3 linked regions of the Homo sapiens genome follow. The protein of the gene in region 1 purifies or fractionates together with the protein of each later gene. This does not show direct contact. Each region holds a gene or a part of one and is shown on either strand. Other genes may lie near its edges.

The links.
Region 2: the proteins of CHRM3 (region 1) and PIGX purify together in Homo sapiens (affinity purification with mass spectrometry; 2 studies listed by BioGRID and IntAct, with this or other methods). This does not show direct contact.
Region 3: the proteins of CHRM3 (region 1) and DYM purify together in Homo sapiens (affinity purification with mass spectrometry; 2 studies listed by BioGRID and IntAct, with this or other methods). This does not show direct contact.

What each region holds. Positions count from the first base shown.
Region 1 is NC_000001.11:239,389,524-239,393,177, forward strand, and holds part of CHRM3 (muscarinic acetylcholine receptor M3), read left to right. Parts: intron 1-3,654.
Region 2 is NC_000003.12:196,729,256-196,732,909, forward strand, and holds part of PIGX (GPI alpha-1,4-mannosyltransferase I, stabilizing subunit isoform 2 precursor), read left to right. Parts: intron 1-1,736; coding exon 1,737-1,837; intron 1,838-3,654. UniProt on the Homo sapiens protein: Stabilizing subunit of the glycosylphosphatidylinositol-mannosyltransferase I complex which catalyzes the transfer of the first mannose, via an alpha-1,4 bond from a dolichol-phosphate-mannose (Dol-P-Man) to the glucosaminyl acyl phosphatidylinositol (GlcN-(acyl)PI) intermediate to generate alpha-D-Man-(1->4)-alpha-D-GlcN-(1->6)-(1-radyl,2-acyl-sn-glycero-3-phospho)-2-acyl-inositol and participates in the sixth step of the glycosylphosphatidylinositol-anchor biosynthesis.
Region 3 is NC_000018.10:49,331,621-49,335,274, reverse strand, and holds part of DYM (dymeclin), read left to right. Parts: intron 1-1,421; coding exon 1,422-1,547; intron 1,548-3,268; coding exon 3,269-3,411; intron 3,412-3,654. UniProt on the Homo sapiens protein: Necessary for correct organization of Golgi apparatus. Involved in bone development.

The sequences.
Region 1 (3,654 bases):
AAAATGTGAAGTTCTTTTAATGATATTTTAGCCTTTAATTGCAGGCAACCTGTTGAAAGAGGGCATGGAAAAAATGTGAAATTGGCAGACATAGAATTTCTTAGATTCACACTTGTAAATTGAATAGACAGAAAGTTAAACGATATGGTTAAAAGCAAAGTTGCCTTATGTATTTGTAAATTATAAAGTAATACATATTTTCAGATTTTTAGTTAAAATCTCTGTCATTTTCCCAGCCAACATATTGTTCTTGCCTAATAACTTTGTTAACATTGGCAAGCTCAGTTGCTTACTGCTAAATGGCCTGGACGATTCCAGTGTGACTATTAAGAAATTGGGTCTTGTTTGCAGTGCCGGGAAGTTTATACTGGGAACAGCTGTGGTGTAGTGGCACTTTAGATAGGAGATGAATGAACCGTGAATCATATGAAGATGGAGACTGATCAGTATGCAGAGAAGTGTATCTGTCCTTCACTTATGGAACCTGATTTTATATCATATGATGACTAATAGCATTATTCTCACAGTGTGATTTTGGAGGATCAGTGAGTAACTAGAGATGTTGTCTTTTATGTTTGTGAATTTAAAATGTATTCTCCTTACATAAGACTATTGTAAAAGGTATCTATGAGCTTAATAAAATTGTAATCAAATCCCTCTACCACGTTTACTTTTAAAAGTTAATCAGCATAATAAAATGTGCCTTTATGCTTAATTGTTTAATATAGTGTTTTCCTAGATGCAATATATTTTTCATCTATAAAGTTCAGCAAGTCCAGCAGAAGCCCTGTTCTGAAAAATTACTAGCCTTTCAGAACTTTGGAATAAAATTTCAACATCAATGGAAAGTTTTAATTTTATGAAGAGATAATCTAATGTATATGACAGGAGGCAAAATCAGTTAAATTAGAAGTTAGTTTCTGGTGTCTGAAAGGCCCTATCTTCTCCATTAGGGAATATATCTTTGTTCAGATCAAATGCTAAGCAGAGTATTTCTTCAAATCACTCATCACTGCATTGCTCCCTCTGCCCACCCTCCACGGAGAGGGTGTGCAGGTATGAAAGGCTTCCCTCACTTTTTTTTTTTTTTTTTGAGATGGAGTCTCACTCTGTCGCCCAGGTTAGAGTGCAGTGGCATGATCTTGACTCACTGCAACCTCCGCCTCCCAGGTTCAAGCAATTCTCTGCCTCATGAAAGGCTTCCCTTTTCATCAGTGAACTAGCACCTGGAGAGCTCTGTTAGCCTGCTACCTTCCCTAGCAGTTGCATGCCCCAGACAGTATAGATCTCCATTAGTGTTGTCTTCAATGCAAGAAATAAAAATAATTTTGGTCTGGGCACAGTGGCTCATGCCAGTAATGGCAGCAGTTTGGGAGGCCAAGGCAGGAGGATTACATGAGGCAAGGAAATCAAGATCAGCCTAGGCAACATAGCCAGACCCCATCTCTACAAAAAGTGTAAAAACTTAGCCAGGCATGGTGGCGTGCACCTGTATTCCTAGCTACTAAGGAAGATGCAGTGGGAAGATAGCTTGAATGCAGAAGTTCGAGACTGCAGTGAGTCAGGATCATGCCACTGCTCTCCAGCCTGTACGAGAGTCTGAGACTCTGTCTCTACATAATCATCATCATAATAGTAATTTTGGTTTGGTGAAGCAATTGAAAATATTAAACCATAATGTGGCTTATGTGATAACTGTGTGACCTCAAACATTTCATTCCCCACTGTACACTTGAAGACCATAGTAGTTGCCCTGTCCATACCATGGATTGGTTTTGAGAATCCAGTGCATGTGGATGTGCTTTTTGAACAAACTCTGAAATGCAGTGCTTGATTGGAACCCAGAGCCCCCTCAGTACACCATGATGGACAGCACTGAGCGCCAGTATGTAGTGGCCCTCTGGCTCAGTTTTTGGCCTCTGTGTGTTGTTTTCTATCCAGAAGTTTTGGCAGCTTGCAGATTCCCCAGCCTCTGGCAGGCTCTCTCTTTTAGGCTGGCGATCTGCATTCTCCCACCTGTTGGAACTTCCCGCTCATCCCCTCCTGAAGGCCAAGGACTCTGGCTGACGTGCACCTTCTTAGCTTCCTCTGCTGAGGCTGCAGCTGCAGCTTGCCACATTGACACAGACCTAGGGTCCAGTAGTGATGACAGGAAGTCAACAGAAGGAATATTCTGAGCCCCTGCCAGCTTCTCACCAATTGTGCCAGTTCATCCTGAAGCCATCCGGAATATGAACACTTTGAGAAAAACAATGGTGGCCAAAAATTAAAAACAAAAAACAAAAACCAATTTGATAAACAGTAGCTGGCAGATGCCTTGTGGGCTTTGAGACCTTGCCTTTCCAAGCCTGCTCTGCATGGGACTCAGGAGCCTGGCCCTTCTGATTCCACAACCAGTGCAGAGTCTGTCCTAACCCTAGTGAGCTCTAGCAATTCTCATGCCCCCCTCACCTCAGTTTCTCTAACTCCTGTCATATTTACCATTTCGTAGGACTAGGATTTTATTGAGTTTTCAATTTGCACTTTCAGTACTGGATTTAATGTCTGGCCTGGGAAAATTTTAGCTATGACCTTGGCAGTCAGCCTCGCCCTTGCCAAGAACTTCTCTCCAGGAGCAAGACCCCTTTCTTTCTATTCTGTCTCTGATTCAATCTCAGTGTGACAAACCCTTGGACCTAAGGCACAGCTCCTCTCCTGACAGTGCATCATTTCCGCCTGAGACTTGTAGTGCCCGGTTCCACTTGACAAATAAATTCTCCTTGTCTGTCATTGTTGGCAGGATCAAATCTCAGTTCTCCACACCTCTCCCAAGCAATGTAATTTGAGTGGCTGACTATCCACTACAGAATTAATCCTTCATTAGGTCATTTGTTCTAGCCCAGTCCTAGCCTGCTTCCTGTCCCCACTGTTCCCTTGAAATTTGGCATGCCAGCTGAGCCATGACATCGTCTACCTTCTGTCACCTCTAGCACAGGAAGTGGTGCTAATGTAGACATCCTGGTTCAGGCAGGATATCCGCCGACTACTGCTGTTCAGATAAAATTCAGGTGAGTTTAAACCAAGGTGAAATACTTTCAGCCTGTTTTGGAGAGAGTTCCCAGAGAGAGGGGCTACCAAGTGTGTACTTCCCTGCATTTATGGCTGTGAAGTGTTTTGGTGCTCTTCTACTGAAGCCTTCTAATTTACCATAGGTAGCTATGGCTATAGACATAGATACATATAAAAATATTCTGTCACTAAACTGTAGGAAAAAGGAGCTGCTAACAGCCTTTGTCTACATTTTTTAAGACTTGTCACTTTGGAGTACATTTTCTCCCACTAGAATTGCCCATGGGATCCAGACTGGAGGGAAACCTGGTTACTGCTAACTATTAATACATACAGGCCAATTCTTGCCCACAGCCATTTGACATTCCATCGAGCTAGCTCTCACTTCCATTGAAACCTAATCCAGTGGTATTTTGTAGACTCACAATCCATATAAATTTTGGCTGAGCATAGTGGCATACACCTGTAGTCCCAGGTACTCGGGAGGCTAAGGCAGGAAGATCACTTGAGGCCAGGAGTTCAAGGTTATAATGTACTATGATTGCACCTGTGAATAGCCACTGTACTCCAGCCTAGACAACATAGCAAGACCCCCATCTCTTCAAT
Region 2 (3,654 bases), on another chromosome or scaffold:
CCAGGAGGCGGAGGTTGCAGTGAGCCAAGATTACACCACTGCACTCTAGCCTGGGTGACAGAGCGAGACTGCGTCTCAAAAAAAAAATAAAATAAAAAAAATAAAAAGCTTTTGCAGTTTGCAGTCTTCTCAAGATGTTTTCTTTCTTTCTTTCTTATTTTTTTTTTTTGAGGCGGAGTCTCGCTCTGTTGCCCAGGCTGGAGTGCAGTGGCGCAATCTCGGCTTACCGCAATCTCCGCCTCTCCTGCCTCAGCCTCCTGAGTAGCTGGGACTACAGGCTGCGCCACCATGCCTGGCTAATTTTTGTATTTTTAGTAGAGACGGAGTTTCACTATGTTGGCCAGACTAGTCTCGAACTCCTGACCTCGTGATCCACCCGCCTCGGCCTCCCAAAGTGCTGGGATTACAGGCGTGAGCCACAGCACCTGGCCAAGACATTTTCTTTAGTTTACGAAGCCCCTTTCAGTTTTTGGTTCTTTGTGTCTTCAAATTTGGGTTGATTTAGAATGTTTATAAAAGTTAGTAGCACTGGGGCCAGGTGCAGTGTATCACACCTGTAATCCCAGCACTTTGGGAGGCCGAGGCAGGCGGATCAGTTGAGGTCAGGAGTTCGAAACCAGCCTAGACAACATGGTGAAACCCTGTCTCTACTAAAAATATAAAAATTAGCCAGGTGTGGTGGTATGCACCTGCAATCCCAGCTACTTGGGAGGCTGAGGCACGGGAATCACTTGAACCTGGGAGGCGGAGGTTTCAGTGAGCTGAGATCGCGCCACTGCAGTCCAGCCTGGGAGACAGAGCAAGACTGTCTCAAAAAAAAAAAAAAAAGTTAGTAGCACTGTTACTAAAAACCGACAGATGGGAAGTTTTTAATACTACATTTGTTACCGTCATACCTTTCATGACGAGAAAATTAAAAATGTTCAATTATATTACCTTTGTTCATCCAACCTTGTTTTCTGTTTCTATTAAAGGTACCTCTTAGCATAAATAAAGTTTGAAAAAGTTCCTCTCCTGAGAGAACTGGATTCTGATATTCTGTCTTTTTATCTGAATGCTCTTTTATGGGTGTGTTTCATATGGAAATTTATCGAGTTTTGCACTTACGATATGTTCACTTTTCTGAGTGATGCTTCAAAAATAAGTTTACATTAAATTTTTAAGAGCAGCCCCAAATTTGAGTACAATGAGATTCATTAAGAAGTCATGTTTGGCCAGGCGTAGTGGCTCACGCCTGTAATCCCAACACTTTGGGAAACTGAGGTGGGTGGATCACGAGGTCAGGAGTTCAAGACCATCCTGGCCAAGATGGTGAAACCCGATCTCTACTAAAAATACAAAAATTAGCTGGGTGCAATGGCAGGCACCTGTAATCCCAGCTACTCTGGAGGCTGAGGCAGGAGAATCGCTTGAACCCAGGAGGTGGAGGTTGCAGTGAGCCGAGATTGCACCACAGCACTCCAGCCTGGGTGACAGAGTGAGACTCTGTCTCAAAAAAAAAAAAAAAAAAAAAAAAGAAGTCATGTTCAACTTTTGCAATACTTTTGTGATTTTCTAATTTCTTAGGCATTCACATAAAAAAGGATGCTAAAATAACAGAATGTGATAGATGGGTCCAGATCATATACATAATGTATTAAAATGTTTGACAACTTCTGTCTATTGAGGTTTAATACAAGCCTAGCTTTCAGTCCAAATACAGGTTTTCTGACATCATTTTCTACCACTTTTCTCAGAGTTCCCGATTTTGAAATGCTGGGCTCACTCAGAAGTGGCAGCCCCTTGTGCTTTGGAGAATGAGGATATCTGCCAATGGAACAAGATGAAGTATAAATCAGTAAGCTAATGTTTTATGTTGTTTTTTAGATCATGTGCCTCATTTAAAGCTCTTTCTGTAATGTTCCTGCCACATTTAAGAGATTAGCATTTTTTTTTTTTTTTAGGCGGAGTCTCGCTCTGTCACCCAGGCTGGAGTGCAGTGGCACAATCTCGGCTCACTGCAGCCTCCGCCTACCAGGTTCAAGTGATTCTCCTGCCTCAGCCTCCCAAGTAGCTGGGATTCTAGGTGCCCGCCACCACACCCAGCTAATTTTTGTAGTTTTGGTAGAGGCAGGGTTTCACCCTGTTGGCCAGGCTGGTCTCAAACTCCTGACTTTAGGTGATCCGCCTATCTTGGCCTCCCAGAGTGCTGGGATTACAGGCATGAGCCACCGTGCCCAGCTGGGATTAGCATTTTCTAATATAGAAAGCTGTTTTTTCTTACAGCAAAGGGTTACTACAAAGCACTGCTGTTTTTTGTTGGGGAACTTTCATTGAACATACAGTTGGGAAGATGGATGACTCTGCAATCTTATGCAGTGTAGAGTTGTTTTTGAGTAGGTTGCCATTGCCATATGGTACCTGAAAATTTTTCTCAAACTCTAAAATACATCTGGAGACCTGCATTTGATTGATTATGTCAATGAAGAGTATGCTTAGTGTTTATGATTTATTGATTTAGCAAATTAGTGTGTATTGCTACAAGATAAGTAGTGACCCTTTTAAAACATTTTGAATTCAGTTGTCCTTATTTATTTATTTATTTATTTTGAGACAGAGTCTCGCTCTGTTGCCCAGGCTGGAGTGCAGTGGTGCAATCTTGGCTCACTGCAACCTCCGCCTCCCTGTTCAATCAGTTCTCCTGTCTCAGCCTCCCGAGTAGCTGGGACTATAGGCGCCTGCCACCATGCCCGGCTAATTTTTGTATTTTTAGTAGAGACGGGGTTTCACCTTGTTGGTCAGGCTGGTCTCAAACTCCTGACTTCAGGTGATCCACCCCCGTCAGCCTCCCAAAGTGCTGGGATTACAGGCGTGAGCCACCACACCTGACTTCAGTTGCCTTTAAAATTCTGTAACTTGCCATAAGAGGTCATAATAATTTAACACTTTAAATATAGCTTTTAACTATATGTATATATTATTTATATATATATATATATATATATATATATATATATATATATTTTATTTTATTTTATTTTTTTTTTTATTTTATTTTTTTTTTTGAGACGGAGTCTCGCTCTGTTGCCCAGGCTGGAGTGCAGTGGCACGATCTCGGCTCACCACAACCTCCGCCTCCCGGGTTCAAGTCATTCTCCTGCCTCAGCCTCCTGAGTAGCTGGGACTATAGGCACGTGCCACCATGCCTGGATAATTTTTGTATTTTTAGTAGAGACAGGGTTTCACTGTGTTGGCCAGGCTGGTCTCAAACTCCTGACCTCATGATCCGCCTGCCTCAGCCTCCCAAAGTGCTGGGATTACAGGCATGAGCCACTGCACCCGGCCAACTTTATATATATTTCATCTTCATATATACCAGAAAAATAGGTGGCCATTACTAAGGTGGTATTCCATCCCAAGGATTGTTGAAGATGTCATTTTTTTGAATGACGGTTTTCAGATAGCACTTTGTTGCAGATTGGGTTGGTTACTTGTATTTTTTGGGGTGTGAAATCATAATTCAGGTATTTACAAAAAGAAAAAGTATTCCCAAGTTACGTACATTTTAATGTTTTTTAAAACTTATTTTTAAAGTATAAACTTTCCCAGTGTTTTTCATTGAACTTTATCTTCAAAACCAAATAGAAAATAGAAACTGAGTTGAATGTAGGAGCT
Region 3 (3,654 bases), on another chromosome or scaffold:
TTTCAGGAAAGAGATTGTTCTACAATACTTTAAAAGTCAGATTTCTGAGTAGAGCTGAGCTTTATTCAACCACGTAATAAGGCTAATTGCGTGGGTCTCTTGTGTTTTTCTTTTTTTATATGTCATTTTTAAATATATTTCTTTTTCTTTCTTTATTTTTTGTTTTTGAGATGGAGTTTCGCTCTTATCGCCAAGGCTGGAGTGCAATGGCACGATCTTGGCTCACTGCAACTTCCGCCTCCCAGGTTCAAGCCATTCTCCTGCCTCAGCCTCCCTAGTAGCTGGCATTACAGGTGCCCGCCACCATGCCCAGCTAATTTTTTGTATTTTTAGCAGAGATGGGGTTTTACCATGTTGGCCAGGCTGGTCTCAAACTCCTGACCTCAGGTGATCCACCCGCTTTGGCCTCCCAAAGTGCTGGGATTACAGGCGTGAGCCACTGAGCCTGGCCTTTTAAACATATTTCTATCAGTAATAACTCCTTAAGATATCTGGTAGAATTTAAATTTTTCTAGTTCTAGAATCAAGTCATCATTAATTTGTTTAATGAGCTTTCATTTAAGTAGGTGTTAAGTATTTTTCTTTGTTTTTCATAATTATTTCATTTTTATAAAAATATTTTAGTATTCTTTTGGTGCTATTGCTCTTTTTACTGCGTTGTTGAGGTTTCTACTTCCTTGGTCTTAACATGTTCCCCATTATAATCCTGTTTAAACTTTTGCAGTAACTGGAAATTTCTGGATGCCTTTATTCCTCTGTGTGCTTTCTGTTCAGCTGAATCTTTTTCTTTTTATTTGATCTAAGACTTGTTTCCCAAAGGGGTTTATGATCTTGAGAGGACAGAGTAACCCTTCATAATCAAAATATGCTTAATAAAACAGGAATAACTTGTTTACTGTTAATATTTTGCTGAACATGCAAAGTTGACCTTGAGAAAGGTAGGCACTAGAGACACAAGATCTAGGGTGTATTATTGTTCTGATTGTAAAGTGATCATCAACATGAAAAGGCATTGTTTTCTTCCCTACACTGTACCTTCTCTTCAGCTTTACAATCTGAGTATTTGTCTCTGTATTATCACTAAACAGAAATGAACATAGATGTCTAGAGTGAATCTTCAAAACAGAACACTGCTAGTAACTATTTCCATTATACATAAATAGACTTGTCATTTAATAGGAGATGGAAACTGGAAAATAGGGAAATAAAGGGATAACTAACCCAAATACACCAGCTAATGACAGGGAAGGAGTTTAATATTTTTGCTTGACTTAATTTTTGTATTAAACGTATTAACATTTTTCAGTAACCTGAAAATACTGAATATTTAGATTTGAGTTTTTAAATGTATAGTTCATTTAGAAAAGAATAGTGTCTTAATCTTCCAAAGTGACTGTTACTCTGTTTTTCTTCCATTTTAGAGATATTACATATGAAATATCAGTAGAAGCTATATCAACAATGGTTGTTTTCCTTTCCTGCCAACTCTTCCACAAAGAAGTTTTGCGACAGAGCATCAGCCACAAGTATTTGATGCGAGGTCCATGGTATGTTTCTACTTTAAGTATGTCTAGTTTTTTCATTGTATAAATCTATATTTCTAGTCTTGTCCTTTTACCTGAGTATCGTCCCATATCTCCAACCAGGTATTTCCTCTAGTTGTTCTATTGTCTCTTTAAACCCAGTGCATAGGGAACCGCATTCTACTTTCCTGTGCCATCTACCCATCCTCCCTGTTCTTCCTGTCCCGTAGCTTCATTACCTTCTCCAGTGGTTGCTTCGTAGAATTGAAACTTTGAAATCATCTTTTTCTTCCATCTCCTTCATTCTGTCTATGTTTAAGCAGTCAAGTCATATTTGTTATTCAGATTATTTTTGTATCTTCCTCTTCTCAGCAGTCCCTTTGAAACACCTGTGATCTATGCCCCCTTACTCTCTTTGGACTTCTCCAGCAGCCTCTTCGCTGACTATTCCTACTTCTTTGAGCCTGCAAATATTTGCTGTGTGCTATCCATGTGCCAGGCATGTTAGACTGTGGGGCTATGCTCTTGAGCAGAAGCTTACGATCTCCTAGAGGGTGTGGATGCAAATGACCAACACATATGCACATACCTGACCTTTTATTAACATAATCTTCACAAAACTTTAAAAATGTAAAACAAATCCAAATAAAGTACCTTTGAGGAAAGTTCTCAGATAGTGGGGAGCTTTGTCTTCTTCATATTCTTTTTGCTACCCTGATTATTCCTGTGGCATGTATGTTCTTTGAACATATTTGAAAATCACTGAGGGAAAGGATCTGGGCTTTGGAGTCAGAGGTTTGCATTGGAACCCTCTCTGACAGAGACACTCAGAATGACACTCAGAATGACCGTGGTTTGAAGTAGTGCTGGCATCGTGGGACTGTGTGCATCTTTGCTGAAACAAGATTGTGAACTTCATCCCTTATAGTGCCAGAGTATTCAAGTTGCTTTTTAAAAATAGACATAGAGGGTGTTAGTGTTCTTATTTTCTAAGTAAGGTTTTTATAGTATCATTATGGTGCCACATATTTAAACCGTAATATGTTCTTTACTTATTTTTGGGGTTCATCTTGGAAACCATATTTAAAAAGCTCAATAGTACATTAAAGAATCTGTTAAAAAGTTTACTCTATATTGCAGGAATTAGTTTAATACCAATTGAATAATTGAATAATTTCATACTTAAAAAGTGTAGTCCTATTGTTATTTTTAAATTCTTGCTTTTTTCTACTGATTCTTTATTACTACTTCCCTTCAATTGCCAGATAATGTGTTATGCACTAAATTTATAATAGCTCACAGTGTTATACCGAATGTAGATAAAGTAACTGGAGTTCAAGAGTTCAAGTGGGCTGGGCACGGTGGCTCACGCCTGTAATCTCAGCACTTTGGGAGGCTGAAGCGGGAGGATCGCTTGAGTTTAGGAGTTTGAGACCAGCCTGGGCAACATAGTGAGACCTTGTCTCTACCAGACCTTGTTTCTCCCCACTGCAGAAAAAAAGTATTTAAGTAATTTGATCAATATCTTATGATGTGATAAGAGGAAAAGCAAGGATTAAGCCTCAAAATTGCTCTCAAAGCCCATGGTCTTCACTGTTGTGTGCAGTGCTCAATTTCTGTGAGTTGTGCCAATAGCCCTTTTGTATTAACAGATAGTGTTAATGGCAGAATTATTTCTGTATTGTTATTCAGAATTAGATGACTCCCATAAATATGAGTTTGATTTTTTTTTCCTTTTTGTATAGTCTTCCATACACCAGCAAACTTGTGAAGACCTTATTATATAACTTTATCAGACAAGAAAAGCCACCTCCTCCAGGGGCCCATGTTTTCCCTCAGCAGTCGGATGGGGGAGGACTGCTTTATGGACTTGCATCAGGAGTAGCAAGTAAGTTTTATCAGATTTTTTCAATTCTTTGGTGCACATAAATTTTATCTATTTAGGCATAAGAAATTCTGTTTGCTTGGCTGCCACCATTAATAGTTACATTGAATTTGTGCAGCTGGTTCAATGTGAAAACAAAGTAATTAAAATATTAATCTTTCTGTTTTGTGCGGTGATTTATGTAAAATGTATGCAAATAATGAATGGATTACCTACAAAACATCGTTTTTCAGGAAGAATGTTTAC